7 separate regions of the Homo sapiens genome follow, and regions 2, 3, 4, 5, 6 and 7 are each reported to be linked to region 1. The links are microRNA targets in miRTarBase. Many come from high-throughput screens and were not tested one by one. Region 1 holds a microRNA gene; each other region holds the end of a gene's coding sequence.
Evidence for each region. Region 1 holds the annotated microRNA hsa-miR-7847-3p (CGUGGAGGACGAGGAGGAGGC, at 2,872-2,892, shown strand). A microRNA usually pairs through its seed, bases 2 to 8, with sites in the 3' UTR of a target mRNA and lowers its output. Matches are read on the target gene's strand: a 7mer-m8 pairs with bases 2 to 8, a 7mer-A1 pairs with bases 2 to 7 and ends in A, and an 8mer does both.

Region 1 (4,087 bases):
TGGAATAGTGAGGGGGTGAGGTCATGGGGAGGGGGCCCGCATGACTCATATCCTGGGGTAGGGGAAAGGGAGGAGACGTAGAAGGGGCCCAGAGGCCTCCACGTCCTCAGGCTGCTGGGTCAGAGGCCAGGGGCTGGCCGGGCTTCTCCCCAGCACTGGGTTTTAGGGGAGACACCAGGAGATGCTTACTCTGCATCCCCTACTCTGTCCCCCAGGCCCCTAGCCAGGGAGAGCTCAGTCGGAGTGATCCTCCAGGGGCCCAGCTCTGCAGGGACGATGTTCCCAGAGTACACACCTGGGCCTCGTGCCAGGGCCGGCACCGCCGTTGTCGGGGCAATGGCAAGGCAAACAGTCAACGTTTGCCTCACTAAAGTGAGGCTGCGGCACCCTGAAGGGATCCCTGGAGGGGGACGTGGTCCCCTTGTTCCCAAGCCTGTCTGCACACGCACGTGGATGTCAAAGGTTCCCGTGTGTGAGCACGTGCATACTTGTATGTGCATGGGGTGCGGGCATGTATGCCTGTGTGGCTGGAGCGTGGGCTCGTGGAGAACGTGTGTGAGTTGGGTGTGCACCTGCGTGTGCCCCAGGCCTAGGGAGTCCTGCGCCCGGCCGCACTCCATGTGTTGGGCATGAGCTGTGAGCAGAGTGAGGGCCTTTGTGGGGCTGTTGGGGCCCGGACTGCTTGCCCATAGGGGTGGACCTGAGGAAACGTGTGCACACGAGCTTCTGGGGTCTCTGCGCCAATGTGTACTTCCAAGCCCCGCCTCCCCTATGGCTTGGTGGAGGGGGTCTGTGGAGCTGGAGTGAGGGCCCTGGACCCATCGGAAGCCCAGGTCCAAGGAGGAGCATGGGCTCCCTCTCATGCCCCAGGCCCAGGGACACACACCCCAGCTAAGCCCTTGCTCACATGGAGGGGCTGGGACATGGGAACACGGGGAGCAATATGGCCAGGCTTCCCCTCCATGGAACCCCTCCACCTCCTCAACACTCTGCCCCAGCCTGCGCCGCCCTCTGTGTGGAGGGGCTGGGGCGTGAGTGAGCACGAGGGCCCCTGCGCCCCAGGCTCTGCCTCCTCAGGTGGAACAAGGCCCAGCAGCCCCCAGCCATGCGGAGGCCGGCAGAAGCGGGAAGCTGGGCCTCATCTGCCCGGATGATGGGAGCCAGGTGTGGGGAATTAAGTGGCTTCCTCGGGGGCCGGGAGTTGAAGGCACTTCTGAGGAGCAGGACAGGCAGGCGGATTCGGGGGCGCGGGGGGCGGGGTGCACAGGCGGCTGGGTTTGCGTGGCTGGAGTCCCCTGTGGCTTCGGTGGGGGGAGTGGGCCTTGAACTCGGGCCTGTGGAAGGGCCTGGCTTTTGTCTGAGAGGCTTAGGGGAGACCTAGGAGAGATTAGATCACGCGCTGGCAGGGCTGTCTGGCCAGGGGACTGGGGCCCAGTGGGGATCAGGCTGCAGGGTCAGGCAGCGGCCACTGGCCGGGAAGAACTGAGACCCCAGTGGGGAGACCCCAGCCCTGCTCCCTGTTCTGGCCTGGGCTCCCTCCCTGGGTCTGGGATAATAAGCCCTGTAGGAGTGTAGAGACCCTGGACCCCCTCTCAGGCTCTAGGAGGGCGATGGGAGGCAGGGCCATGACAGCTGAGGCTGCGGTGTCTGCAGGACCTGGACCATCTGAGAGCTGCTGGGCCGGGGCTCTGATGCCCAGGTCCAGGCCAGCCTGTGCCTACCTCTGTCCCTGAGGGGGGCGCGTGGGACCCCAAGAAGCCATGGTTTCAGGCTCTGAGGGCAGAAGCACTCCCTTACCTCAGTTTCCCCATTTTTGAAATGGCTCAATCGGCTGGGTGCGGTGGCTCATCCCTGTAATCCCACCACCTTGGGAGGCTGAGGCGGGCGGATCACCTGAGGTCGGGAGTTCAGGACCAGCCTGACCAACATGGAGAAACCCTGTCTCTACTAAAAAATACAAAATTAGCCGGGTATGGTGGTGCATGCCTGTAATCCCAGCTACTCAGGAGGCTGAGGCAGGAGAATCGCTTGAACCCAGGAGGCGGAGGTTGTGGTGAGCCCAGATCACACCATTGCACTCCAGCCTGGGCAACAAGAGTGAAACTCCGTCTCAAACAAACAAACAAAAGAAACAGCTCAGAGAGACTCCGCAGAGGGCTCTGAAATAAGGATGGGGTGGGGTTGGGTGAGCCGACCCTGTAAGGTGCCCCCAGCTATGGGGTTAGGCCCAGGCAGGACCCATGAGTCTGCGGAGCTTCTGTGAGCGGGGCTGGTGGTGGGACAGGAGGTGTCCTGCCTGGACGTGCTCAGGCCCTCCTTTCCTCAGCCTTCGACCTCCCCTTTCTCCAACACGCCCTGCCTTTGGGGTGCAGGAGGGAGCACCCGCAGGTGGGGTGGAGGTGCCGCCTGGCGGTGGGCTGCGGCCAGTCTCCCTGGACTCCAGTATCTTCTTCCTGGGCCCTCCAGGGTCACCTGGGTCTAGGTCCTGGTTCTACTTAGGGAGGGAGGCAGGCTGGGAGAGGGGGACAGAGGGCCTTTTGTCCTGTCCTTGAGTTTCTTCAGGCTTGAATGGGCCTTGGAGTCCCACCTTCATCCCCACAGGGCACAGGGGTGCCCAGATCCTCACAGGGCCCCAGGACCCTCGCCTGGGCCAGAGGGCACCTCATGACCACGTGGGCAGCCTCTATTTAAAGATGGACAAGGTGAGGCCTGAGGGCCGGCCTGGGACTGACCTCGTGGACAGGGCTGCCTGCACCGTGTGGCCCCAGCAAGGCCTGTGTAGATGGGAGGAATGGGTGCAAAACAGCACCTGTGTCGGCTGTGGCGTGACTGTCCCTCTGTGTCCCCCACTAGGCCCACTGCTCAGTGGAGCGTGGAGGACGAGGAGGAGGCCGTCCACGAGCAATGCCAGCATGAGAGAGACAGGCAGCTTCAGGCCCAGGACGAGGAGGGAGGCGGCCATGTCCCCGAGCGGCCGAAGCAGGAGATGCTGTGAGCAGCCCCATAACGCGTGCCTGGGCTCTAGCCCCTATCCGTGTACCCTGGGGCCTGGGCAGAGGGGGAGGTCAAGGGCCTGGGCTTGGGGGTTCCAGTGCAGGATGAGAGCGAGGAAGGGCCCCCAGGAGCAGGCGTGGGAGTGGGTGAGTGCTCCTGGGGCGAGGGTGGCCACAGCCCTAGAGGAGGGTCTGCCAATACCTGGCTGCCTCCTGGGCGCTGACCCAGGCTCTGTGTCCGTGCCCTGGCCCTTGCTCGGACCGCCTCTGACCCCAGCCACGCAGCCTGGCCGAGCCCCCCACCAGACTCCCCCGCCAGTGACTCACAGAGCCACGTCCAACTTGGCGGCCAGGCTGGCTTGCTTCCTCCTTGGGCCCAGGAGGCCTCCGCGGCTGGGCTGGGCTGTTTTTCCAATAATGCTTCCCTTCCTTCTGGCCTCTTTTGTTCCATTTTCTCCAAGTCAGCAGCCTTGGGCAGAGTGGGGTTCAGCGGTCACCATAGTCAGGCCCTTGGCCACCCCCACCAAGGGCCCCAGCTATCCAGGGGCTCCCCCTGCCACATGGGAGGCCTGAGAAGTCGGGGCTTAGGAGGACCTCATGTAGGGTCCTCATGTGGGGACCAGGGCAGCCCTTGGGGAGCCCCAGGATGATGGGGGAGGCACAGCCCTGCCCTAGGGAGCCCCAGACTGATGGGGGAAGCACAGCCCTGCTGTTAGGGAGCCACAGGCTGACGGGGGAGGCCCAGCCCTGCCCTAGCGAGTCCCAGAGTGATGGGGGAGGCACAGCCCTGCTCTTAGGGAGCCACAGGCTGACAGGGGAGGCACAGCCCTGTCCTCAGGGAGCCCTACACTGATCGAAGAGGCACAGCCTTACCCTCAGGGAGCCCCAAACTGATGAGGGAGGCATAGCCCTGCCCTCAGGTAGCCCCAGGCTGATGGAGGAGGCATAGCCCTGCTGAGCCTCAAGGAGTCCTGGACTGATGGAGGAAGCACAGTTCTCAGGCTGCCCCAGAACTGACGGGGGAGGCATAGCCCTGCCCTCAGGTATTCTGACCACAGGAGACACAGCCCAGAGCCAGCTCTGTGGCAGACAGG
Region 2 (4,087 bases), not on the chromosome of region 1:
GTGGCAGGTCTTGCCCTTTGGCCAACAGATTTCTTGTCCTGCCTTCTAGATGCCTCTGAGCTCCAAACCCAGGGCAGCCATGGCTTCTCATTTACACCAACAGGTTTCAGTTCCAACAGAAAGGTCGGGGTAGGTTCGTGCAGAGATGGGGCTGGCAGGGGGGCTATGGGAGGATTATTTTAACAGATCAAGAAAATGAAGCCAAATCAAGTGAATTAAATTCCTCACAATTATTTTCTTTCCCTGAGGTTTGATTGGCACAGCAGCAAAAGTTGAGGCCACCCCACTTGTGTCCACTGTTTTTAGAAAAAAATGAATGGCTTCCTGCCATTGTGGGGCTGGACTCTTGGGCTTTCTTGGTGGGAGCGGAGAAGGGGCCTCCCACCCTTGTCCGAGTTGCCTCCCACTGGAGGTCAGGAGTCTACACTGCAGCCTCGGGCACTGTGGGGAGTGCATGCCTGGGGCCTCTGGGTGGGGACCATGGACAGGCCCTGGTCACTGTCCTAACCTTTGTCAGGACAAAGGTAGCAAGAGGATTTCCTGGCGGGTGGGAAGGAATGGCTGGGGCGGCCAGTTTTGACACGCCCCAGTGCCCTGGAGAACAACCAGGGTCATCTGCACTTGATGACTGCTCCCCGACCCCCAGCCCGGACACCTCATTCCCCTCCCACTACAGGGATCAAGTGACCTGGGAAGAACCGAGTTTAACACCAGGATGTGTTTCCTTAGATTTCCTTTCCTAGGCGATTTCCAGGGAGAGCCCTGATTGGACAATCACATCACAGATCACACTGCAGTTTCCATGTTAGCACTGTGGATGGGTTTTTAATCAATAAAAACTGGGGGTTTCTTCTCACCGACTCTCCACTTGCCCAAACTGCCAAAAGCTGGTGATTCTGGGACAGGCCTTCACTTTGGAGCCACGGGATGGGGTGGGGGAGCCCCATGGGCCTGGGAAGGAGGGTGCTGTGGAGGGGGCTGCAGGGCTGACCAGCAGGCAGCCTCATCTGGTCGGGGGCGGGGGCGGCAGGAGCAGAAGCGGGGTCTCCGTCCTTGGGACTGTCCTGGTTGGCCACGGGCCCTGAGGATGCACGGTGCCTGGGGCTCCTGTGCCGGTGGGCGGGGGGCATGCTGGCCTCTGAGCGATCAGGCGAGGCCAGCGAGGGTGTGCTTGCAAATTCAAGCAATAAGAGGGGGGTTCCTGGGGGCTTCCAGCCCAGGCTAGAAGCCCCCATGGCTTCTGGCAGCTGGACATCAGCCCCAGGTATTGGGGTGATTTTGGTCATGACAGTGTGCCTGTCCCACTGTTACACGCATGAATGGGGGTTATGGGGTGGGGGTGGGGACTCAGGGCTGGACCGACGTCCTAGTGGACCTGATGTGAAATTCCTGTCAAACAAACACCACTTTTCAATGGTTTGCTAGGAGTATTTCTGTATTGAAAGTTTCTAATTATGCTTTTTAAAAAAATACTAAAAATAAAGGTTCAAGCTGCCAAATTTTCTTCCAGGGTCTGTTTGCTCTCCCTCCAGAGATGTGCTGAGTGGCCGTGGCTTCTTCCCACCCACCGTGTCCTGCTCTTCCCTGTTCTTGGCCTAAGTCTTGCACAGGAGCCTGTCGAGGCCCTTGGGACACTTCCAGAAGCCAGGTCCATTTTCTCCATGAACAGGTGGGCCAGGGTTGAGTCTCCCCCTAGTTGGACTGGGAGCACATGTGGTAAGATGCCAGGGGAAGCTCCGTGTTTATCCTCCACATGCCTGGAAGGATGCAGTGGAAGCCTTTGCCTGGCGTGGTTTCTTTCTGGCTTGAAGTTTCTGCCAAGCTTTAGGGCCCTGCTGGCCTGGGAAGCAGCGTTGGCAGGCCTGCCTTGCGGATGGCACGCTGCAGCACTGGCAGGGGGCAGTGCCAGGCGGGAGGGGCAGGGGAGGATGCCCTTCCTGGCCAAATCCCTTGGTTAAGTAAGTACCAGCATCTGAGGTGGCCCGGGTGCAGGGGAACCACTATTGCTACCTCTCCAGCAGCAGCCAGTGGTGAGTCTGACATGTCAGCTGCATTCAGACCAAACCCGCCCCCCGCAAATACCCAGAGACTGAGGCAGGAAGCTCTGTAGAAATTCATTTTATTCTTATTCAGACTATTTTCAAAAGAAGCAGTGGTGTGCTGTTTTTCTAAAAATATGCCTTTATAGATTTTTATATATGTATATTATAAAATCCATACATGTATTTACATGATTGCTACATACAAAATTACAGCACTGTGGTATGTACACATCTACAGGTACATTCTTGCCGCGCATCCCTGCTGTGCTTTCCCCACGTGAGGGAGGGAGGGAGACTGAATCGGTTGTGAGCAGCTGAGGGCTGGCCGGGCCGCGGAGCCTCTGAGTTGGGGCCTGGGTGGAGGAGGAGGGGCGGCTGCAGAGGCAGGAGCAGCAGCCACTGCAGGCTTCTGCAGGCAGGCAGGCAGCATCTGGAGGCTTCCGGCAGCCTCCCCCTCCCCTCCACCCCGTGGTGCCTGTGCTGCCCTCAAGGTGGGGTGGCTGACCACAGACCCCTCTGGTGCCATTCAGTGGCCTGGACTTGTTTGGCTAGGCCAAGAAATTATGTATGTATGTGAGGGGTGGAGGAGGGAGCTGTGGGAGGAGGAGACCCCGTCCAACCCCAGCCCTGAGCAGGGGAAAGGGCTGGATGGCTAAAGCCTGCAGATGACTGGTGATAACACTCTGCCTGGCCAGGCCCTGCTAAGGGGCAGAGACTGAAGGCTGGGAGGGAGAGCAGTGGCGACAGGGGGACAGGGCCTTCTTCCTCCCTGGGGCTCGGGTGGCCTCAGCTGAGCTTGGGTAAGCCCCGGCTCTTAGACCCTGCGGCCAGAGGCTTGGCCTCCTGCCAGCTGAGGTGCATGCATGCGGGGGAGGGGCTGCCATCTCTCCTTTGACCCTGGGCCAGGGGCTGGGGAAGGAATGGAGGCTCAGGCCTGGCCCGCTGCCCCCACAGGTCTAGGCCCCTGGGGCTCAGGCCTCCTGAGGCATGCAGAGAAGGGCCTCCATTCCTTCTGTTCCCCATTTGCTAAAATCAAGGAGGCAGCAGTGCCTGGGGGTGGGCTGCGATCTGTTGGGTGTGAGCTGCAAAGCCCAACACCAAGGGGCCCCTCTGGGAGGTGGCCTAACCCTGCTCAAGCACGTGGTCCTGGAGAAGCCCAGGCGTGGGCTTGGCCAGGCGGTGGGCCAAGGGAAGCCTTCAGTGGCCAAGGCAGGCCCCCACCTCTAGGTCTCCATCCCCACCGACGAAAGGGAGCAGGCCCTCCCGGACCCATGGGGCCCTAGCATGAGGGGCAGGGCAGCTGCTGAGGTGCAAGCTGCAGGGGAGGCCTTGCCTGCACCGCCTTTCCAGCTGCCTCCAGTCCACCCATCTTTGGTGGCCTGACTCCTCCCAACTTAAATTTTCCTGAAGAATGAGAAGAGTCGTTTGCCTTCAGCGATGCTGGGCTCATCCCCCCGCCCAGCGCTGTGGCCCCTGCAGAGGGCAGCAGCCGGCTGGCTCCGTTCTTTCAGGTGCGTGTCCATCAGCTGCCGGTCAATGACCCTGTGCATGTCATCCTGCAGAGGGGAGGGGACAGTGGCCAGGACTGAGTAGCTGCTCTCACCTAACCCTGGGGCTGGACAGGGAGGTGGGAACATCAGACAGATGAGAGATGAGAATGTGATGAGTGAGAGGCTGCAGCCGGGACTGCCCTGACCAAGAAAGCGGTGAGCGTGGGCAAGACACCAGGCGCACGCAGGAGCCGTATGGCACCTCCAGCCTCCTCAGGCTTGGGCTGGGTTCTCCTCAACAGTGTTACTCCTGCTGGGCCGCCACAGTCCTCAGCTGATGGCTCGGGTGGTCTCTCCCTGCAGTCTCCACACTAGCACTCCACCTGCTCTGACCAGGCCTCACGGCTCTGCCTCCTGTGTCCTGTGGGCCTGGCTGGTGCCTCCGGTTTGGCTTGCCACCCCCAGCCCCGGCAGGCCCTAGGGCCACCTCAGCTTAACAGCTCCCCAGCCCAATGGCCTGGCCTCAGGGGCTCCTCCTGCCTTTTCCTTTCCAAT
Region 3 (4,087 bases), not on the chromosome of region 1:
CCTGGCCTTTCAACTGTTCTTAACAAAGAGAGTACAAGGGCTTGAGGTACTGCCACCAGATGGCTCATCAGCCGACCACAGCCTCCCTTATAGAGCACAGTCCTGGGTGGGGGTGGCATGTTAGGATAGGAGAGGGAGCAGCAAGGAGCTGTCATGACTGACCCCGGGTGTCCCTATTTCTTCCCAGGGCTGCACTTGGGGCGTGGCATACCAAGTGCAAGGGGAGCAGGTAAGCAAGGCCCTGAAGTACCTGAATGTGCGAGAGGCAGTGCTTGGTGGCTACGATACCAAGGAGGTCACCTTCTATCCCCAAGATGCTCCTGACCAACCACTGAAGGCATTGGCCTATGTGGCCACCCCACAGAACCCTGGTTACCTGGGCCCTGCGCCTGAAGAGGCCATTGCCACGCAGATCCTGGCCTGCCGGGGCTTCTCCGGCCACAACCTTGAATACTTGCTGCGTCTGGCAGACTTCATGCAGCTCTGTGGGCCTCAGGCGCAGGACGAGCACCTGGCAGCCATCGTGGACGCTGTGGGCACCATGTTGCCCTGCTTCTGCCCCACCGAGCAGGCTCTGGCGCTGGTGTGAGGGGCTGAGCCCCTGCGGGGAGTGCTCATGTGGACATCAGGGCCAGACACCCACTCCAGTGCACAAGACAGACTTGCGACCGCTTGAGCCCACTGAGCAGATATGGTGGGTGGCTGGAGGCTTCTCTTTCTCAGTCCCTGCCTGTCTGCCAGCCTGCAGCTCTCCTGCTTGACACTGACTTACTACTTGAAACTTTATTTATTGCACCATGTTGGTGTGGTGGGCAGGTGGAGGGCCTGCCCTGGACACAGGGGCCCTGCTGAGCAGTGGCCCCATCCTGGAACTTGACCAGATTCCCCCCAGTGCTGCTGCTAACCCCACACCACCCAGGCCTCCACCTCCCCAGGGAGTCTCCAAGAGCCTCGATCCTCTGCTCACTCAGCCCAGCCATCCATAGCCCTGGGAATTCCACCTGCCAAGGATCCCAGCAGGCTGGATGAGGGATAGTAGGGCATGAGGAGAAGGAGCCCTGTAAGGACTGAGGCCCCGGCCAGCCCTTCTCCTCCACCAGTTCCCCAGAGCAGAGCTGGAGCTGATGCCTGGACACAGCTGCTGAGCCTGGCCTGGGCCTCTTACCCACTTGGTTGTTTTCTTGTCCCTCTGTCTGTCTGTCTATCTACTTGTCTGTCTGGGCCACTCCTGCCTGTGTGTTGGTCTATTCCTGGGAAGCTCATCACTACAGGCCCTGGCAACCTTCCCAGTCTGTCCCATACTGTTACCCATAAAACTATCTCTTTATCTGTGCTGTGCCGGAATGTGGTTCTTTCTCAGATGGGGGTTTGGGGCAAGTGAGGTGGTGATGCCCTGGAAGGCTCCTAAGAGGGGAAAGGGCTCCCTCTTCCTCTCCTTCCCTCTCTTCCCAGGAGGGGCAGCTGGGCAGGCAGAATTAGCAGGTGACATCACTCTCATGGGTACAGTTCATGCCTTACGCATGCAAATAGTACCCCCTGAGTTGTGCAGAATTCAGCTCATGCTCTACTTGGCAGCCCTGTGAGCAGTGTCCTTGCCACCAACCTGGACTCTGTCTCATCCTGCCCAGCTGCCCCAAGGAGGCTGGCAGGCTTGGAGCTCAGACCAGCTCTTCCTCCAGCTGCAGGGCCAGCGGCTGCCTCTTCCTAACAGCTAGGCCAGAACCCTGGTGTCCTGCTAAAGGAGCACGTGGGTTAGGGTAGGGTGATGACAACTTCTAAGGCAAGGCTAATGGCAGGGACCTGTAGCCTGGAGGACCTGGTGTCCCTTTTACTTTCAGAGTCTGAGTGCTCACTGTTGCCTCCGGGAGTGTGGTGTTGCCTGTGCCTTCCCCATTGCCATCACCTGCCCTGGTTTACCCACACTGGAATGCGGGCCCCAAGTTTACCCCCTGCCTGTCCCCAGATGTTCTTGTCTAGCCCTTGGGGACAGATCACAGCTCCAGGATCTCAGCCTGGGCCTGAGCTCCTCATCAGGAGTGGCCTCTTAGTGCTACTCAATCCCTGAACTTGCAGAATGGGGCAGACCCAAAATGACAGGCTCTAGCAGCAGAAGAGCTTGAGGCCAAGGGCTGGGTGTGGTGGCTCATGCCTGTAATCCCAGTACTTTGGGAGGCCAAGGTGGGAGAATCACTTGAGCCCAGGAATTCGAGACCAGCCTGGACAACACAGTGAGACCCCATCTCTATAAAAAATACAAAGGAAATTAAAAAAAAAAAAAGTGCCTTGAGAGTCCAACCCAGCCTCCTCCTCATTGCCCAGTCACCTCGGAAAAAGCCTTCAGCCCCCTGGGTACAAGTTCACTGTGAGGGGACGATGCCGTGGGATGATGTATGGGGCAGGCTGGGTGGTATGTGTTGCTGCTGTTCTTGCGGCTGGTGTCCTGGATTGGTCTGGGTGTCTCCAGCAGGGTCAACTCCGATCAGGTTGTGCAGCCGTTGTGGCTGGGGAGGGTGCCATGCCTGGGCCGTGTGCTCATGTCTTGGCGGCCTTGTGTCTTGGCCATTGATGGGAAGAGTGTGGAGTCCAGCCAGCTTCTTCTGGGTGCCTGGTGAGGGCAACACAAAAGGAGGAGGCAGCAGGTGGCAGGGAGCCCTGGGCAGCTGCCTCCTGTGTTTCCTGGGCCTCTTGCCAGACAGCCAGAGCACAGCCCTGCTCCATCCTGGGAGCTGATGGTGGGGAGGGCTGCTTGCCAGCTGCACGTAGGGGGCTTTCACCCATCAAGCCATTCGATCAGCAAGTATTTCCTTAAGCTCCCACTGTGTGCCATGCACCATTCCAGGCACGGGGATACAGCGGTAAAGAACTCCTCCTCCTCAAGGAACTTGGAGTCTAGAAACTGATGGTGACCATTCAGCGTGGAATGGGAGAAGAGGGCCTTGAGCACCCAGAAAGGGCTTCTGACTTGAGCAGGGCAGTCAGGGAAGGCCTTCTTGGCTTTCTTGGAGAGGGAACCTGAGAAGGGGCCTCTGAGGAACAGAGAGTAAGGGAACAACACGTGCCTGAGGGGAGGCAAGCTCAGACCAGCTGGAACAGAGTGGCCCGGACAGGAGACACGAGCCAGACAGGTGGCAGGACTGCCGGCCTGGTGAATTGCGCTGTGCCATGCTGCGGGGTGGCATTCCTCCTGGGTCAGTGGGGGCCTCTGGTGGATTCTGAGAAGGGCAGAGATGTGCTTAAGAGAGAACACTGGCTGAAGTCAGATTGGAGGAGAGAGGCCAGAGGGAGCTGTAGGGTGCCCAAGCTGAGGTGTGCCAGTGGGAATGGACAGTGGAGGGATTGCAGAATTGTTTAGGGGTGAGGTTGACAGCATTTGGTGGCTGGTTTGATGAGCAGAGTGAAAGGAGGGTAGAGACAGTAGGGCTGGGGCTCCTGGGACAGTGGCAGATCTGGAAAGAGTCGGGGGTAGATAGCCTTGCGTTTAAGTTAGGGGTGCCTGTGAGGGGAGGAATGACTTCTACGGGGATGTTCAGGGCAGCTGGATATGTTGGTGTGGGAGTCAGGAGAGAAAGCTGGGCTGGAGTTAGAGACTTGGGAACCATACATGTGGAGACTGGGCTTAAAGCCCTGGTAGGGGAGGAGAGGAGAACAGGGCCCGGCCAGGCCCTGAGGACCCCAGCCGCGGTGGTCTGAGCAAAGCAAGAAGAGGTGTCGGGAACAAGCGCTGGAGAGGTAGGCGGAGAACGAGGAGAGGGCAGGGTGAGGAGAGCCAGGGTGGAAGGTGTCTCCAGGAGGTGCACAACATGGTCATGTTGCCAAGATGGCCAAGATGTCAAGAGAAACGAGGACAGAAGAGTGTCCACTGGATGAAATGCCAGGGGGGGTCCCTTGTGGCTTCAGTGAGAGCAATTTCAGGAACAGTATGGAAAGCCACAAGGCAGGGCTGAGGGGCCAGTGGGAGGGGAAGCAGCTTTCAGGAAACATGGTTGCTAAGAAGAGAGAGAAACAGGGATAACTGAGGGCACAGGAGTTGCGGGGGTCTCAGGACCCCTTCACAAATGAAAAATTGTGGAGGACCCCAAGAGCTTTT
Region 4 (4,000 bases), not on the chromosome of region 1:
CCCTCGCCGCCCTCCCTCCGCTGTGATCCAGAGATCTTGGCTTTGGGGAAGCGAGACCCAAAGCGGGGAATGACCTGCGGGGCCCGACCTGCTGTTTCCCAGTTGCTTTGTCCCCTCCTCAGGTTGCCTGGCCACGGCGGCCGCCCTCACCTACGGCCTCTACTCCTTCCACCGGGGCAACAGCCAGCGCTCTCAGCTCATGATGCGCACCCGGATCGCCGCCCAGGGTTTCACGGTCGCAGCCATCTTGCTGGGTCTGGCTGTCACTGCTATGAAGTCTCGACCCTAAGCCCAGGGTCTGGCCTTGAAAGCTCCGCAGAAATGATTCCAAAACCCAGGGAGCAACCACTGGCCCTACCGTGGGACTTACTCCCTCCTCTCCTTTGAGAGGCCCATGTGTCGCTGGGGAGGAAGTGACCCTTTGTGTAACTGTAACCGAAAGTTTTTTCAAAAATCCTAGATGCTGTTGTTTGAATGTTACATACTTCTATTTGTGCCACATCTCCCCTCCACTCCCCTGCTTAATAAACTCTAAAAATCCACTTGTATTTAATTCAGTATCATCCCCATGGTTTTTGGTCTTTGATTTTGGAGGAAACGGACTTTGGAGTGGTGCTTAGAAATCGTGTAGTCTAGTGATTCCCGAACTTTCCTAGTAACAGCCACCCAGGGCACTTTGAAAGCAGAGATTTGGCCAGGCGCAGTGGCTCACACCTGTAATCCCAGCACTCTGGGAGGCCGAAGCGAGCGGATCACCTGAGGTCAAGAGTTCAAGACCAGCCTGACCAACATGGAGAAACCCCATCTCTACTAAAAATACAAAATTAGCTGGGCGTGGTGTTGCGTGCCTGTAATCCCAGCTACTCGCGAGGCTGAGGCAGGAGAATCACTTGAACCCGGGAGGCGGAGGTTGTGGTGAGCTGAGATCGCGCCATTGCACTTCAGCCTGGGCAACAAGAGCAAAACTCCATCTCAAAAAAAAAAAAAAAAAAAAAGAATCTCAAGGTCACTCCTTGAGATTCTAGTTCAGTGGGCCTAGAGTAATGCCATTTGAAAAATACTGGTCTAGCCAGCAGTTTTTCAGACTTTCAGTAGGACAACCTTCCTTCAGATGAGGCCTCCCATAGTCGGGTCAGAGGCAGAGGGTTCTGCCCTCCACTCCGCATAACCTCCTCACCCTGCTCCCACCTCCCTAGAGTCTATGGGGCTCCACTGATCTAGACCATCTAGTTCTTTTTTTGAGACGAGTCTCACTGTGTCAGCCAGGCTGGAGTGCAGTGGCAGAATCTCGGCTCACTGCAACCTCCGCCTCCCGGGCTCAAGCAATTTTCCTGCCTCAGCCTCCCGAGTAGCTGGGATTACAGGTGTGTGCCACCACGCCCGGCTAATTTTTGTATTTCGTATTTTTAGTAGAATACTAAAACAACATGGTTTCACCATGTTGGCCAGGCTGGTCTTGAACTCCTGACCTCAGGTAATCCCCCAACCTCGGCCTCCCAAAGTGCTGGGATTACAGACGTGAGCCACCACGCCCAGCCTAGACCATCTGGTTCTTGACACAGTATAGAAGAGGAAACAGGCTCAGAGAAGCAGTCTGGTACAGTGGGAAGAACACAGTCCCGAAGCTCTCCAGAGATTTGTGTACATAGTGTTTGAGGGTTCTGGAAGAGGAGGCTGAGGACCTGAGCACACTCTAGAAGAGAGGTGACCTGTTAGTTCCTCCTTCATGTAGTTTCAAACAAGTATTCCTGGTCTGTGGTCAGCGCTCCTCAAATGTTGGATTTGAGGACCTGCGCTCTTCCCGAGTGATTGTACTGTTTTCAACACCAGCTTCAAGCTGGCAGAAGGAAAAAGGGAGTGAAGACACACCCCTTCTTGAACCCCCCAACAGTCTAGATCTCAGTGGAGGGCTGTACTAGGGCCAGCTAAGTTGCTTGCCTCCACCATGTTCTCTCAGCTTTGAGGCAGAGATGATAGATGTAGAGCAGTGCACTGTGGTGACCCTTGGCATCCAGATACAAGACAAGGACATGGAGTGATGACCACTGTTTGTAAGTGTTGGTGTCATGGTGTCCCCCTCCAAAAATGTTGAAGTCCTTCTAGTGCCTTAGAATTTGACCTTAGGCTGGGTGCTATGGTTCATCCCTGTAATCCCAGCACTTTGGGAGGCCAAAGTGGATAAATTGCTTGAGCCCAGGAGTTTGCCCAGCCTGGGTGACATGGCAAAGCCCCGTCTCTACTAAAAATACAAAGATTAGCCAAATGTGGTGGCACGTGCCTGTAGTCCCAGCTACCTGAGAGGCTGAGGTGGAAGGATTGCCTGACCCAAGGAAGTTGAGGCTGCAGTGAGCTGAGATTGCACCACTGCACTCCAGCCTCAGTGATAAAGCGAGACCCTGTTTGAGAAAAAAAACAGAAAACGAAGATTTGGCCACAAAGACAGACATACCTAGAAGGCAATGTGCAAACAGCCACCTGATGGGGGCAGGATTGGGGTGATGCGTCTGCCAGCTAAGGGATGCCTGAGGCTACCAGAAGCCAGAAGCAGGTGGAACAGACCCTTCCCCAGCTCCTTCAGAGGGAGCATGGCTCTGCCACAGCTTGATTTCAGATTTCTGGCCTCAAGAACTATGAGACAATAAATTTCTGTTCTAAGCCAGCTAGTTCATGTACCTTCTTACAGAAGCCCTAGGAAGCTAATATTTACTGGCAATTACTCAAATCTTTTTAAACATCATGCAGGTCATGAACGTCCTGTTTGCAAACTCTGCTGAAGGGGAAGAAGGTGTGATCACTGGTTGTTTATCCAAAATCCAAGATGAGCCCAGTTGAAGGAGGAAGCGAAATACACAGGGCAGTGGACCCTCCACATCCAGAAGGTCCCAGCCAACCCTAAGGAGGGGAGTCTCATGGGTCTTCAGGGCTCTTACCCAGGCTTAGGAGGAAGCTACCACCAGGAACCTCTGGTCTCGCTTTTCCCTCCCACTACAAGCCACTTCCCCTCTGGGAACCTTGGTGTCCTTGGTTATATGGTGAGAATAACAGAATTTACCTCACAGACTTGTTAAAGGATCGAGGTTACAAAAGCATTCTGCGAGAGGCTGTCTTTCCTCCTGGAGGTGGAGGCAACAGACATGGAGAGCTTGGGGCTCCCACTTGGCTGGGAAATGGGGGAACATTCTCCCTTCTCTCAAGGTCATGAAGCTGGGAAAGTTCTAAGCACAAACCGAGCCCTGACACCAGTTGTGGCTTCCAGAGAAGTGAGAATGATAATAAATAAGTGTAAAAAGAGTCAACAACACACCCTTTAAGCCAAGAAAAAAAATACATCAGGAGGGACAGTCACAATTGAGTAGACTGAGAGGAGGCGTGAGGGGCTGGACCAGAGGGCCAGGAGGGAGCGAGGCGTGATGGGGTGAGGGCCCCCCTCCCAGCGCCTGGAGATGGGGAGGAGTGGAATAGGCTGTGGGTAGCAGCTGCTGCGAGTCTCCACCCCGACCAAAGCAGCTGCTCCTCCTGTGCCCAGGCCCAGCCCATGCTCTGTGGCCATGCACCTAGCAGGCACCTAGCGGGACAGTGGCGTCTGCTTCAGGGACATGAGCACCGAGCGCAGGCGGGACACATCTTTGCACTGCTTGCTGCTCTTGGGGTTGAAGTCACATAGCTGGGCCACCTTCTCCCACTCTGTGCCTGGGGTCTCCTCCTTGGATTCCTTCACGAAAGCCTCCTCGGATGCCCTGCGGGTGGAGATAGGACGGGCTTTTATAGCAGTCTGCTTTCCCCCAGCCTTGCCCTTGAGCAAGGCTGCTTTGCCCAGCCTACTCTGGGGCACTGTGTCCTCCCCAGCCTTGTGCCCCCCTGACTTCAGAGGAGGGCAGCCTTGGCGCAGGAGGAAGCCTAGCTTGGTCCTGCCTCAGGACCTTGGCACTTGCTATCACCTCTTCCTGGAACACGCTTCTCCCAGACCTGTTCCTGGCTTGCTGCTTCTTGTCATTCAGGT
Region 5 (4,087 bases), not on the chromosome of region 1:
CTTCCCTCCCAATCATCTCATCCTTCCTCTGCTTTCCTTCCGAGGGTGCTGGGTCCTGCCGTTCCCCTGAGCCCTGTCACCCTTGCTGCCCCACCCTGTGGCCCATCCCAAGCCCTTTTATCACCCAGGCTCCAGTCCCATTGGTGGTGATGGTGGGCAAGGCATGCAGCCAGCCTGAGGCTACTCCCTCTCCTGGTCCCCACAGGAGGAGGAGAACGGGGCTGAGGAGGAAGAAGAAGAAACTGCCGAGGATGGAGAGGAGGAAGATGAAGGGGAAGAAGAAGGTGGGGAGGGGCAGGGGAGGCTGGGCTGGCAAAGTCTGGGCTCAAAGGAGAGCAGAGTCAGGGTGGGTTTGAAGACCTGAAGCAGGGCTGAGGGCGACCACGGGGGCTCTGCCAGAGCTTCCTGCCCTTCCCCAATGACCCATTTCTGGCTCCTCAGATGAGGAAGAAGAAGAAGAGGATGATGAAGGGCCCGCGCTGAAGAGAGCTGCCGAAGAGGAGGTTTGGGCTGGGTTGCTGGGCCTGAGGGGCTGTCAGGGATGCAGCCGGGCTGGGCGCCCTTTGGATTTGGACCCAGATCCCTGTGTGGCAGGGGTGGGGGCTGGAACAGGACCGGGACAGGGGGAGGTCTCCCCTCCCATTTTACAGCTCCCCCATTCTCTCCCTCTCCACAGGATGAAGCGGATCCCAAACGGCAGAAGACAGAAAATGGGGCATCGGCGTGAGCCCCTGCCAACAGGCTGGGGTTGGGAGGCCTCTCTGGGCCTGGAGGTGGGGGTGGGGGCAGCCAAGTCCAGCCACTCTTCACCTGGCTCCCTGCTCTGGGCCCTGCACCAGAGCTGCCACCCTCTTCTTTCTCCCCAGCCTTCTCATTTCCGCCTCTCCAGACACTGCGCCCTCCACCCTCACTCTGCCATTGTTCCACCTCCTGACCTGCTCCATCTGAGCTCTCCAGCTGGCCCCCAATTGCTCCTCTCTCTCTTTGCTCTCTTTCTCCCTCCCCTACCAGCCTCATTCTTCCTCCGGTAGCCTCTCCCACCTAACCTCTGCATCCCCCAGCCTCATGTCCTGCCCCATCCCTATCCTGCCTGATCCCTGGATCTCCCTCAGATCCCCTCTTCTCAGACAGCGCCAGGCCGGGGTGGGGCCGGGGTTGGGGCCGAGCCCCACAGCTGCCCCCCTCCCCTCCCTTTTTGTATAATTTAATAAAGAAATGGTCGCGCTTCTGTTTTTAACCTGTCTCCTGCTTTCCCGGGGGCTCCAGTCAGTGCGACAAAAGGGTAGAGAGGGAGGAGGGTGGCTGACCTCCCATTCTGCCAGGACCCTTCCCTTTGATACAAAAGCAGCAGCACACTCCTACCACCCACGACTCAAGAAGACAAGATCAGCCCTCCAGGGGTGGCCTGGAGCCCAGCTCTTCTGAGAGCTGACTTATGTCCTGTTTTGGATTCTCAGGGATGCTCCTCCCCAGCAATACACACTTCCCTGCTAACCCACACAAGACCTAGACACTGCTGAGCCCAGTGGAAAGCTACCAGCTCTATTGTGCTGAACCAGGCACAGAGAAACAGCCCAGAAACAGGAAGTCCTTCCCCTGAGCTGGGAGAGGGCTGGTAGTCCTGGGTCTCAGCCTGCTAGGATCTGGAGTGAGCTGCCTGGCATCAGAGATGCCCTCTGCCTGGCATGGAAGCGAGCTCCTTCCAGTCAAGCAGGGAAATCCTGGGTCTCGTGTCATCCCCAGGTCGGCTGTATGTTTCGTCACCTGCCCTCCAACTCTCCCTGGGCTGGGCTGGGGAGCGGGAGTTGTATGACTCTTGTCAGTCTTGGGCCTTCCCTAGTCCCACTGCCTCTGTTTCCCCTGAGTTTGATCTCTGTTAGGAGATTTCTAAGATTTCTGCATTTCTCCATCTCCGCATGGCCCTTGCCTTCTCCTCTTAGTTCGGAACCTCTGGACTGGAGGATGCTTCTGAGGGCATGGGGACCTGAGTTGGAGTGGGGAGGGGTGTTGACTCATCAACAGCATCATTTCTCCCAGGAGACGCCCGTAACTCATCCAAGGTCAGGACTACACACTGTCACGCACACAGGTACACTCACAGCTTTTATCTTCACGCTCCCTAACCTTGGCAAATTGTACAATTTCTTTGAAGCTCAGTTTCCTCATCTGTACAATGGGGAAAAGCATTAGATTTCATGAATTACTATAAGTAAAGTGTCCAATACAGTGCTTAGCACGTAATGAAGCCTCAATACAATGTAGTTATTCTCCATGCCCCACAAAGCTGGCATGCCTAGCCTCAGACCTACCATTTTTTGGGGTGCAGTAAGGCTTCCTGTCCACCATGTTCCCAGGGACATTGTACTGATGGGTGGAAAGGCAGGTCTAAAGGGGTCACGAAGTTCTGGGAGGTTAAGGGAACGAGGAAGGAGATTGAGCAACAAGGAAAGAGCTTGCCAAGAAGGAGGTGTGAATATTGGGACTGAGGAGGCAGCTTAGAGATGGGCAAGGGGGCAGTTCCAGGCAGAAATGGTTCGTGGAGGCAGAAGGTCCCTGGGAGAGGGAGCAGTCTGGAGGGTGGGGCAGGGGCGAGGAGGGGGAGGTGGGGAGACCCAGGACTGAGGAAGTAAACAAGGGGAGCGCCACCACAGAGGTGGAGAGGTGGAGGGTGCTGCTGCTGGGAATCAACCCCCTCAGACTTTCCACTGCGAAGCGAAACCGTAAGCCCTGGGGTGCGGGGGGCGGGCCGGGAGGAGGGGAAGTGGGGAAGGTGGAGGGAAGGCCGGGCACAGGGGTGAAGGCCCAGAGACCAGCAGAACGGCATCCCAGCCACGACGGCCACTTTGCTCTGTCTGCTCTCCGCCACGGCCCTGCTCTGTTCCCTGGGACACCCCCGCCCCCACCTCCTCAGGCTGCCTGATCTGCCCAGCTTTCCAGCTTTCCTCTGGATTCCGGCCTCTGGTCATCCCTCCCCACCCTCTCTCCAAGGCCCTCTCCTGGTCTCCCTTCTTCTAGAACCCCTTCCTCCACCTCCCTCTCTGCAGAACTTCTCCTTTACCCCCCACCCCCCACCACTGCCCCCTTTCCTTTTCTGACCTCCTTTTGGAGGGCTCAGCGCTGCCCAGACCATAGGAGAGATGTGGGAGGCTCAGTTCCTGGGCTTGCTGTTTCTGCAGCCGCTTTGGGTGGCTCCAGGTAAAACGGGGATGGCGGGAGGGTTGACCTCCAGCCCCACAGGAGGGGACCAGCAGGGATCTCTGTGGCCACAAAGGTCCTGAGGTCCTTAGCTCTGTGGATTCTTCTAATCCCTTTTTTGGGCAGTCCTTCCACCCCGAAAGCCTCTCTGGGCAGAGAAGAAACAGAAACCCAAGTTCTTCCTGCACCCTGTTTCTCCCTCGGGAAACACCCAGGCTCCTTCTCTACCCCTGCCTCTCGGCTCACGCCCCCTCCCCTTGGCCTCTCTTTTGCTCACCTAGTGAAGCCTCTCCAGCCAGGGGCTGAGGTCCCGGTGGTGTGGGCCCAGGAGGGGGCTCCTGCCCAGCTCCCCTGCAGCCCCACAATCCCCCTCCAGGATCTCAGCCTTCTGCGAAGAGCAGGGGTCACTTGGCAGCATCAGCCAGACAGGTATGCACCCCAAACTTGGGCAACAGGACCTCCGAATCCAGCACTCAACCCCACACCCGTGCCGGTCCTCTGTCCCCTGCCCTGAGGTGTCACTCCCTCTGAAGCCAGTGACCCAGTCTCCCTGCCCTCGCTTGCACCGTTCCTGCCCTTGCTCTGCAATCAGCGACCCTCACGCCAGCATCCCTTCTCTCCAGAAGTGGATGCGGCCAGTCCAACAGAGGGGTCGGGCGTGAGGGGACGGTTGGTGGTCAAGAGAACTCTTGGGGCGGGCTTTCTCATCCTCAACGGGTGGCTGCCTGCATCCTCCCGGGCTTCCTACCCCTGGAGCTTCTCAACTCCATTCTCTTTCCCGCCCAGTGGCCCGCCCGCTGCCGCCCCCGGCCATCCCCTGGCCCCCGGCCCTCACCCGGCGGCGCCCTCCTCCTGGGGGCCCAGGCCCCGCCGCTACACGGTGCTGAGCGTG
Region 6 (4,000 bases), not on the chromosome of region 1:
GCAAAATGTGTTAACAACTTAAGTTAGCTGTCAGCTATGTGTGTCTGAACCAGGAACCTAATGAAAACGGCTTATATCTCTATCCTACTGTGATGAGCATCTTGAGTCATCCTCTTCCTCCATCAGTAATTCCCTTTTCCTGTTTCCTTCTCCTAGCACTCCAGTTCTCGCCTGAATTACCAAAGCAGCGTTCAGGGATCCTCTCAGTCCCAGAGCACACTTGGCTACTCTTCCTCGTCTCAGCAGAGCTCACAGTACCACCCATCTCACCAGGCCCACCGGTACTGACCAGCTCCCGTTGGGCCAGGCCAGCCCAGCCCAGAGCACAGGCTCCAGCAATATGTCTGCATTGAAAAGAACCAAAAAAATGCAAACTATGATGCCATTTAAAACTCATACACATGGGAGGAAAACCTTATATACTGAGCATTGTGCAGGACTGATAGCTCTTCTTTATTGACTTAAAGAAGATTCTTGTGAAGTTTCCCCAGCACCCCTTCCCTGCATGTGTTCCATTGTGACTTCTCTGATAAAGCGTCTGATCTAATCCCAGCACTTCTGTAACCTTCAGCATTTCTTTGAAGGATTTCCTGGTGCACCTTTCTCATGCTGTAGCAATCACTATGGTTTATCTTTTCAAAGCTCTTTTAATAGGATTTTAATGTTTTAGAAACAGGATTCCAGTGGTGTATAGTTTTATACTTCATGAACTGATTTAGCAACACAGGTAAAAATGCACCTTTTAAAGCACTACGTTTTCACAGACAATAACTGTTCTGCTCATGGAAGTCTTAAACAGAAACTGTTACTGTCCCAAAGTACTTTACTATTACGTTCGTATTTATCTAGTTTCAGGGAAGGTCTAATAAAAAGACAAGCGGTGGGACAGAGGGAACCTACAACCAAAAACTGCCTAGATCTTTGCAGTTATGTGCTTTATGCCACGAAGAACTGAAGTATGTGGTAATTTTTATAGAATCATTCATATGGAACTGAGTTCCCAGCATCATCTTATTCTGAATAGCATTCAGTAATTAAGAATTACAATTTTAACCTTCATGTAGCTAAGTCTACCTTAAAAAGGGTTTCAAGAGCTTTGTACAGTCTCGATGGCCCACACCAAAACGCTGAAGAGAGTAACAACTGCACTAGGATTTCTGTAAGGAGTAATTTTGATCAAAAGACGTGTTACTTCCCTTTGAAGGAAAAGTTTTTAGTGTGTATTGTACATAAAGTCGGCTTCTCTAAAGAACCATTGGTTTCTTCACATCTGGGTCTGCGTGAGTAACTTTCTTGCATAATCAAGGTTACTCAAGTAGAAGCCTGAAAATTAATCTGCTTTTAAAATAAAGAGCAGTGTTCTCCATTCGTATTTGTATTAGATATAGAGTGACTATTTTTAAAGCATGTTAAAAATTTAGGTTTTATTCATGTTTAAAGTATGTATTATGTATGCATAATTTTGCTGTTGTTACTGAAACTTAATTCTATCAAGAATCTTTTTCATTGCACTGAATGATTTCTTTTGCCCCTAGGAGAAAACTTAATAATTGTGCCTAAAAACTATGGGCGGATAGTATAAGACTATACTAGACAAAGTGAATATTTGCATTTCCATTATCTATGAATTAGTGGCTGAGTTCTTTCTTAGCTGCTTTAAGGAGCCCCTCACTCCCCAGAGTCAAAAGGAAATGTAAAAACTTAGAGCTCCCATTGTAATGTAAGGGGCAAGAAATTTGTGTTCTTCTGAATGCTACTAGCAGCACCAGCCTTGTTTTAAATGTTTTCTTGAGCTAGAAGAAATAGCTGATTATTGTATATGCAAATTACATGCATTTTTAAAAACTATTCTTTCTGAACTTATCTACCTGGTTATGATACTGTGGGTCCATACACAAGTAAAATAAGATTAGACAGAAGCCAGTATACATTTTGCACTATTGATGTGATACTGTAGCCAGCCAGGACCTTACTGATCTCAGCATAATAATGCTCACTAATAATGAAGTCTGCATAGTGACACTCATCAAGACTGAAGATGAAGCAGGTTACGTGCTCCATTGGAAGGAGTTTCTGATAGTCTCCTGCTGTTTTACCCCTTCCATTTTTTAAAATAAGAAATTAGCAGCCCTCTGCATAATGTAGCTGCCTATATGCAGTTTTATCCTGTGCCCTAAAGCCTCACTGTCCAGAGCTGTTGGTCATCAGATGCTTATTGCACCCTCACCATGTGCCTGGTGCCCTGCTGGGTAGAGAACACAGAGGACAGGGCATACTTCTTGTCCTTAAGGAGCTTGTGATCTGTGACAGTAAGCCCTCCTGGGATGTCTGTGCCATGTGATTGACTTACAAGTGAAACTGTCTTATAATATGAAGGTCTTTTTGTTTACTTCTAAACCCACTTGGGTAGTTACTATCCCCAAATCTGTTCTGTAAATAATATTATGGAAGGGTTTCTATGTCAGTCTACCTTAGAGAAAGCCAGTGATTCAATATCACAAAAGGCATTGACGTATCTTTGAAATGTTCACAGCAGCCTTTTAACAACAACTGGGTGGTCCTTGTAGGCAGAACATACTCTCCTAAGTGGTTGTAGGAAATTGCAAGGAAAATAGAAGGTCTGTTCTTGCTCTCAAGGAGGTTACCTTTAATAAAAGAAGACAAACCCAGATAGATATGTAAACCAAAATACTATGCCCCTTAATACTTTATAAGCAGCATTGTTAAATAGTTCTTACGCTTATACATTCACAGAACTACCCTGTTTTCCTTGTATATAATGACTTTTGCTGGCAGAACTGAAATATAAACTGTAAGGGGATTTCGTCAGTTGCTCCCAGTATACAATATCCTCCAGGACATAGCCAGAAATCTCCATTCCACACATGACTGAGTTCCTATCCCTGCACTGGTACTGGCTCTTTTCTCCTCTTTCCTTGCCTCAGGGTTCGTGCTACCCACTGATTCCCTTTACCCTTAGTAATAATTTTGGATCATTTTCTTTCCTTTAAAGGGGAACAAAGCCTTTTTTTTTTTTGAGACGGAGTGTTGCTCTGTCACCCAAGCTGGAGTGCAGTGGCACGATCTTGGCTCACTCCAACCTCCACCTTCCAGGTTCAAGTGATTCTCCTGCCTCAGCCTCCCGAGTAGCTGGGACTACGGGCACGCACCACCACGTCTGGCTAATTTTTGTATTTTTAGTAGAGATGGGGTTTCACCCTATTGGTCAGGCTGGTCTTGAATTCCTCACCTCAGGTCATCCGCCTGTCTCGGCCTCCCGAAGTGCTGGGATTATAGGTGTGAGCCACCGCACCCAGTTGGGAACAAAGCCTTTTTAACACACGTAAGGGCCCTCAAACCGTGGGACCTCTAAGGAGACCTTTGAAGCTTTTTGAGGGCAAACTTTACCTTTGTGGTCCCCAAATGATGGCATTTCTCTTTGAAATTTATTAGATACTGTTATGTCCCCCAAGGGTACAGGAGGGGCATCCCTCAGCCTATGGGAACACCCAAACTAGGAGGGGTTATTGACAGGAAGGAATGAATCCAAGTGAAGGCTTTCTGCTCTTCGTGTTACAAACCAGTTTCAGAGTTAGCTTTCTGGGGAGGTGTGTGTTTGTGAAAGGAATTCAAGTGTTGCAGGACAGATGAGCTCAAGGTAAGGTAGCTTTGGCAGCAGGGCTGATACTATGAGGCTGAAACAATCCTTGTGATGAAGTAGATCATGCAGTGACATACAAAGACCAAGGATTATGTATATTTTTATATCTCTGTGGTTTTGAAACTTTAGTACTTAGAATTTTGGCCTTCTGCACTACTCTTTTGCTCTTACGAACATAATGGACTCTTAAGAATGGAAAGGGATGACATTTACCTATGTGTGCTGCCTCATTCCTGGTGAAGCAACTGCTACTTGTTCTCTATGCCTCTAAAATGATGCTGTTTTCTCTGCTAAAGGTAAAAGAAAAGAAAAAAATAGTTGGAAAATAAGACATGCAAC
Region 7 (4,087 bases), not on the chromosome of region 1:
AGGAACTAACCCTCACCTGCAGCTCAGATTCTACGCCGGCGCCCGGAGCTGTGTCCTGTTGCCTAGCGACGGCGCATGCGCACTGACTAGCGCAGCCCCCTAAACATGCATCCGCGCCTGCGCAGCCGCGGGTCGCCCAGGGTTGGGATGTTGGTGTCGGCTGGGGGCTGCTGTGAGGCGCTTGGTAGCACCCAGTCCTGATACTCTCCAGTTACCCGGTAGGCGGGGCTCGGACACAAAGAAAAGGTGAATTCGCAGCTGAGAGCCCTTGTTTCCGGTCCTTTTTTTTTTTTTTTTGAGATGGAGTCTCGCTCTGTCACCCAGGCTGGAGTGCAGTGGCGCCATCTCGGCTCACTGCAAGCTCTGCCTCCGGTGTTCAAGCGATTCTCCTGCCTCAGCCTTCTAAGTAGCTAGGATTACAGGCGCGCGTCACCACGCTTGGCTAATTTTTGTATTTTTAGTAGAGCCGAGGTTTCACCAAGTTGGTCAAGATGGTCTCAAACTTCTGACCTCGTGATCCGCCCGCCTCGGCCTCCCAAAGTGCCGGGATTACAGGCGTGAGCCACCGCGCCCGGCCGTCTCCGATCTTTACACGCATTCTTCGTGTTATCTGAAGACACTCTGACGCCACCACCCAAAGCAACTGGCAGTTGACTCTTGGCAATTTTAAGCTTGTGTGGAAAGCAGCCGCCGCCCGGTAGCTCCTTTTTATCTAGAGACACTCAGGATGTGGGGGACACCCCAGCAATGCCATCCCTCCTTTGACCTCCAGAGCGCGCAGAATTACAAAGTTGAGTAATACTTTATTTGAAAAAATGAAAAGTGCACACACACACACACACACACACACTTACATAGGCACAGTATAATCTGGAAGTATGACCAGCAAATGATAACTGATTCCCTCAGGGGAGAAGAAACTGGGTGGCTGAAGGACAGGAATGAGAAAGAAGGACAGTTGCGTTTGTTTGTATCGTTTGAAATTGTCCAGTGTGTATGTGTTCTTTTCAAATGTTTGAAGAACCATTGGCTCCCTTATCAAAATGTAAATACCAAGGAAAATCAGGAATTTAAGAAGTCTAAGAATTCTGTAATGCTGGGTAGAATTTTCTGTACGTGTAAAACTAAAATGTCTTTTGTAAATCACTGAGTCTTCCTGTTTATTTCTGGTTAGAGATCTTTGGGGGCTTGGATGGAGGAACAGGAAAAGAGGAGCCAGGCTTTTTTGGAAAATTGGCGGCAGCGGTGGCATACGGGAAACTGAAATCTTTATCTAATCTCATCCTTTGTATATTCGTCTTGGATTTGCTGAAGAAAATTAAAAGGTAAATTTTGCTGTGAGCTCACTGAACTCAAATTGAAAGGGAACATATGCTGTTTATTTTTGTGAAGGACATTAATTGGGTGTGACTGGCAGGGTTGAGACCTGAAGTTCCTCTTTTAGATAAGGAAAATTTCCCTTGGTGAGAAATCTCTAGACTAGTTATGATAGATTCCTAACCCCCAACCTTGAAAGGTAACTTAAGGCTCCCTCCTCTAAGGGAAGGGCTGAAGAAAAAATTAAACAGGCAACTGTGCCTATGAAGATTTGCGAAAAAAAAAAAAAAAAAAAAACATCTAGGACACTTCTCATTCACTGGGTCAAGCCAGAGCCATCAACTTTGTGACCTAGTGAGTGGTTAGTGGATATAGGCAAGCGTAGTAACTTGGGACCAGAGGTTAGGGATCCAGAAAGTTGAAAATGTAAAGACAAAGGCCAGAGGTTATAACTTACTGCCTCTTGGTAAGTAGGAAGCCAGAAGTTGAGCTCCCAAATAAAATGTTTTAGGAACTGTGGTTCTTAAGTAACTCCAAAAGTCAGTACATTTACAAAGAAGTAAATGAAACCTCATAGGTAATGAAACAATGAGACTGAGGAGTGCCTGGGATTAGAAATTCCCAAACGGAGAAAAAAACACATCACAGAAGAGCCATACTTGGTGAAATTTATTAAAAAAAAAAAAAGAAAAACAATAATTTATGCCCTTGGCAAAATAAAAGATCTTATCAATATAAATGTTTCTTAGAAAATGTATGAAAAGATAATATATATTAATAAATCAATATTAACATTACAGCAAAAGTAATAATGATTATATAACAATGACAAGTGAAGATATTTCTGGCCCTTACACAGTAGTATTTCTGGAAGGTCTCTGATTCCTGCTTGCTCTAGTACAGGCGTGCTCTCACTTTAAGAAAGCCTGATGCCGCTGGGCGAGGTGGCTCACGCCTGTAATCCCAGTACTTTAGGAGACCCAGGCGGGCAGATTGCCTGAGGTCAGGAGTTTGAGACCAGCCTGGCTAACATGGTGAAACCCTGTCTCTACTAAAAATACAAAAATTAGCCGGGCATGGTGGCTCACGCCTGTAGTCCCAACTGCTTGGGAGGTTGAGGCAAGAGAATCGCTTGAACCCAGGAGGTGGAGGTTGCAGTGAGCCGAGATCGCGCCACTGCACTCCAGCATGGGCGACAGAGCAAGACTCCATCTCAAAATAAAGAAAGAAAGAAACAAAGAAAAGAAAAGCTTATATTGAACTTCTCTAAAAAAAGAAAAAAAAGAAAGCCTGATGCACACAAATCTAAATTTGGCAAGTCGATCAATTAAAGGATATTTATTTGCATCACAAAATAATTCTTTACTCCCCCCAAAAATCAATAAAAAGTTCAAATAGCAACTTTTCCTAATGTGTTTAAAATGTAATCACCAAATACATGTGTCCCCAACTTCTTTCCAGTTATAATTCTATTGTGTAAAGTGAGGTATACCTGAAGTGAGGCAATAAGAGAGTTGAGCTTCAGACCTGCCTGGAGAGAGCGTGTTCTTTCTTAGAGTCTGAGGAAATGGTTGGGGGCACAAATTCTCTCAATCTTTTTCTTTTCCCTCATCCTGAGCTCTTATTTTCTTGTCTCAACTGCTTTCTGGTAAACTTTGTTCACCTGGTACTTTCAAGAAAAAAAGAAGGAAATCTTACGAGAGGGAGGCAGATTAATGAATTAGTGAGTCACTCTAGCAGCGCAGAGCAAGGGAGAATCTGCGATGTGAATGAGGAGGATCTGAGTGTGGGTGTGGTTGTACTTGGGGAAAAGCAGGAACAATCTTGAACCCTTGACATGGTGCATTTGAGGCCCCTCTCCCAGTAGGGCCACCTGAGTCCCTGAGGAGCCGCAAGGCCTAGTCCAGCCTTCCCTAGATGGGACACATCCTCAGGAGAATGGATGCAGGCCTATTTATCACACTCCTCCTGGCTGCCTTCAGCACAATGGTAGTGCTGCTCACAGAACTCCTGGATCCGGCTGCACGCCTCCAGCATCATCACCTCGGGGACTGTGATGACCACTCGGATGAAATTCGGGTACTCAAAGCACTGCAAAAAGAAGAGTCTGTTACTTTCAGAGCAATTGAGTCTGGTACTGGACCACCCTAAAATGGTCAGGACCCTGATCCACAAGAAGTGGTACCATTTCATCAGGGCCATCAGTTCATTCAGCTCCCATGACTGGGATGCTAAGTCAGCAACTGAGTTCATTCATCTTAAAATGACTTGTGGGACAGGATCAATTTCCTCTCACCTAGAACGTTTGTTTACAACTTTTCTTCCCAGTATGGATGGGATTATGATGGGGGGGAGAAGCAAATTTTAAATAGGATCCATGAGACACATCAGTTTGAATCTTATCAAATGAGAAGACATTTTGTTGGAGGAGAAAAGATCAGGCTAAAAACCAGCTCAGAACTTGCTTCTGGGGCTCTAGAAACTGTTGAGAATGTCCTGAGGGACACAGGCACCCACCGTTGCTGGGAGGCAGTGGACAGACTGCTCAGCAACTAACCGCTCCGTGAACTCCACATCGTTCTCAAATTCTGGGAAATGTTCCATCTCAATTCCAACCTATACCAACAGGAGGGAGAGGCCAACTTATCAGAAGGAGGGAGAACAGGCCAATTTCCTGTGCCAGAAATTAAGGTAGGGGCTACTTTAAAAGATATCTTGGAACTGTGCTACTGATCACTGATAAATAAGAGGGCTAATATTTATGGAATTT

Region 2: miRTarBase lists BICDL1 as a target of hsa-miR-7847-3p. Seed matches in the 3' UTR shown: 7mer-m8 at 2,623-2,629 and 7mer-m8 at 2,400-2,406.
Region 3: the mRNA of CHAC1 is a reported target of hsa-miR-7847-3p. Seed matches in the 3' UTR shown: 7mer-m8 at 921-927 and 7mer-m8 at 1,091-1,097.
Region 4: the mRNA of HIGD2A is a reported target of hsa-miR-7847-3p. Seed matches in the 3' UTR shown: 7mer-m8 at 507-513.
Region 5: the mRNA of PTMS is a reported target of hsa-miR-7847-3p. Seed matches in the 3' UTR shown: 7mer-m8 at 899-905.
Region 6: miRTarBase lists CDK19 as a target of hsa-miR-7847-3p. Seed matches in the 3' UTR shown: 7mer-m8 at 3,101-3,107.
Region 7: the mRNA of TAT is a reported target of hsa-miR-7847-3p. Seed matches in the 3' UTR shown: 7mer-m8 at 2,463-2,469.

The regions. Positions count from the first base shown.
Region 1 is chr11:1,877,234-1,881,320 of GRCh38, forward strand. MIR7847 (microRNA 7847) reads left to right here and starts at 2,812; the gene lies at 2,812-2,914. LSP1 (lymphocyte specific protein 1) reads left to right here. Exons shown (of 11, transcript NM_002339.3): 2 at 2,854-2,991. RefSeq lists an enhancer at 1-107.
Region 2 is chr12:120,092,511-120,096,597 of GRCh38, reverse strand. BICDL1 (BICD family like cargo adaptor 1) reads right to left here. Exons shown (of 10, transcript NM_001367886.1): 10 at 2,104-3,598. The coding sequence ends at 3,437. It overlaps RAB35 (RAB35, member RAS oncogene family), which reads left to right. Exons shown (of 6, transcript NM_006861.7): 6 at 1-1,499. Among named protein-coding and RNA genes, the nearest start is that of RAB35, 22 kb to the left of the region's middle. RefSeq lists enhancers at 2,514-3,157, 3,158-3,801.
Region 3 is chr15:40,955,186-40,959,272 of GRCh38, forward strand. It overlaps CHAC1 (ChaC glutathione specific gamma-glutamylcyclotransferase 1), which reads left to right. Exons shown (of 3, transcript NM_024111.6): 3 at 188-1,327. The coding sequence ends at 589. Among named protein-coding and RNA genes, the nearest start is that of CHAC1, 3.8 kb to the left of the region's middle. RefSeq lists enhancers at 514-1,064, 2,567-3,103.
Region 4 is chr5:176,389,209-176,393,208 of GRCh38, forward strand. HIGD2A (HIG1 hypoxia inducible domain family member 2A) reads left to right here. Exons shown (of 2, transcript NM_138820.4): 2 at 123-553. The coding sequence ends at 289. CLTB (clathrin light chain B) reads right to left here. Exons shown (of 6, transcript NM_007097.5): 6 at 3,293-3,737. The coding sequence ends at 3,566. It also overlaps a transcript of ARL10 not described here. Among named protein-coding and RNA genes, the nearest start is that of HIGD2A, 2.5 kb to the left of the region's middle. RefSeq lists enhancers at 1-228, 21-240, 62-745.
Region 5 is chr12:6,769,716-6,773,802 of GRCh38, forward strand. It overlaps PTMS (parathymosin), which reads left to right. Exons shown (of 5, transcript NM_002824.6): 3 at 206-284; 4 at 442-503; 5 at 677-1,237. The coding sequence ends at 727. LAG3 (lymphocyte activating 3) reads left to right here and starts at 2,805. Exons shown (of 8, transcript NM_002286.6): 1 at 2,805-3,195; 2 at 3,477-3,624; 3 at 3,982-4,087. The coding sequence starts at 3,138. RefSeq lists a silencer at 4,065-4,087.
Region 6 is chr6:110,610,823-110,614,822 of GRCh38, reverse strand. CDK19 (cyclin dependent kinase 19) reads left to right here. Exons shown (of 13, transcript NM_015076.5): 13 at 157-4,000. The coding sequence ends at 288. Among named protein-coding and RNA genes, the nearest start is that of SLC22A16, 140 kb to the right of the region's middle.
Region 7 is chr16:71,564,877-71,568,963 of GRCh38, forward strand. It overlaps TAT (tyrosine aminotransferase), which reads right to left. Exons shown (of 12, transcript NM_000353.3): 11 at 3,835-3,933; 12 at 784-3,408. The coding sequence ends at 3,268. TAT-AS1 (TAT antisense RNA 1) reads left to right here and starts at 140. Exons shown (of 3, transcript NR_103852.1): 1 at 140-246; 2 at 1,175-1,325. It overlaps LOC124903710 (a long non-coding RNA gene), which reads right to left and starts at 64. Exons shown (of 2, transcript XR_007065106.1): 1 at 17-64. RefSeq lists an enhancer at 560-1,091.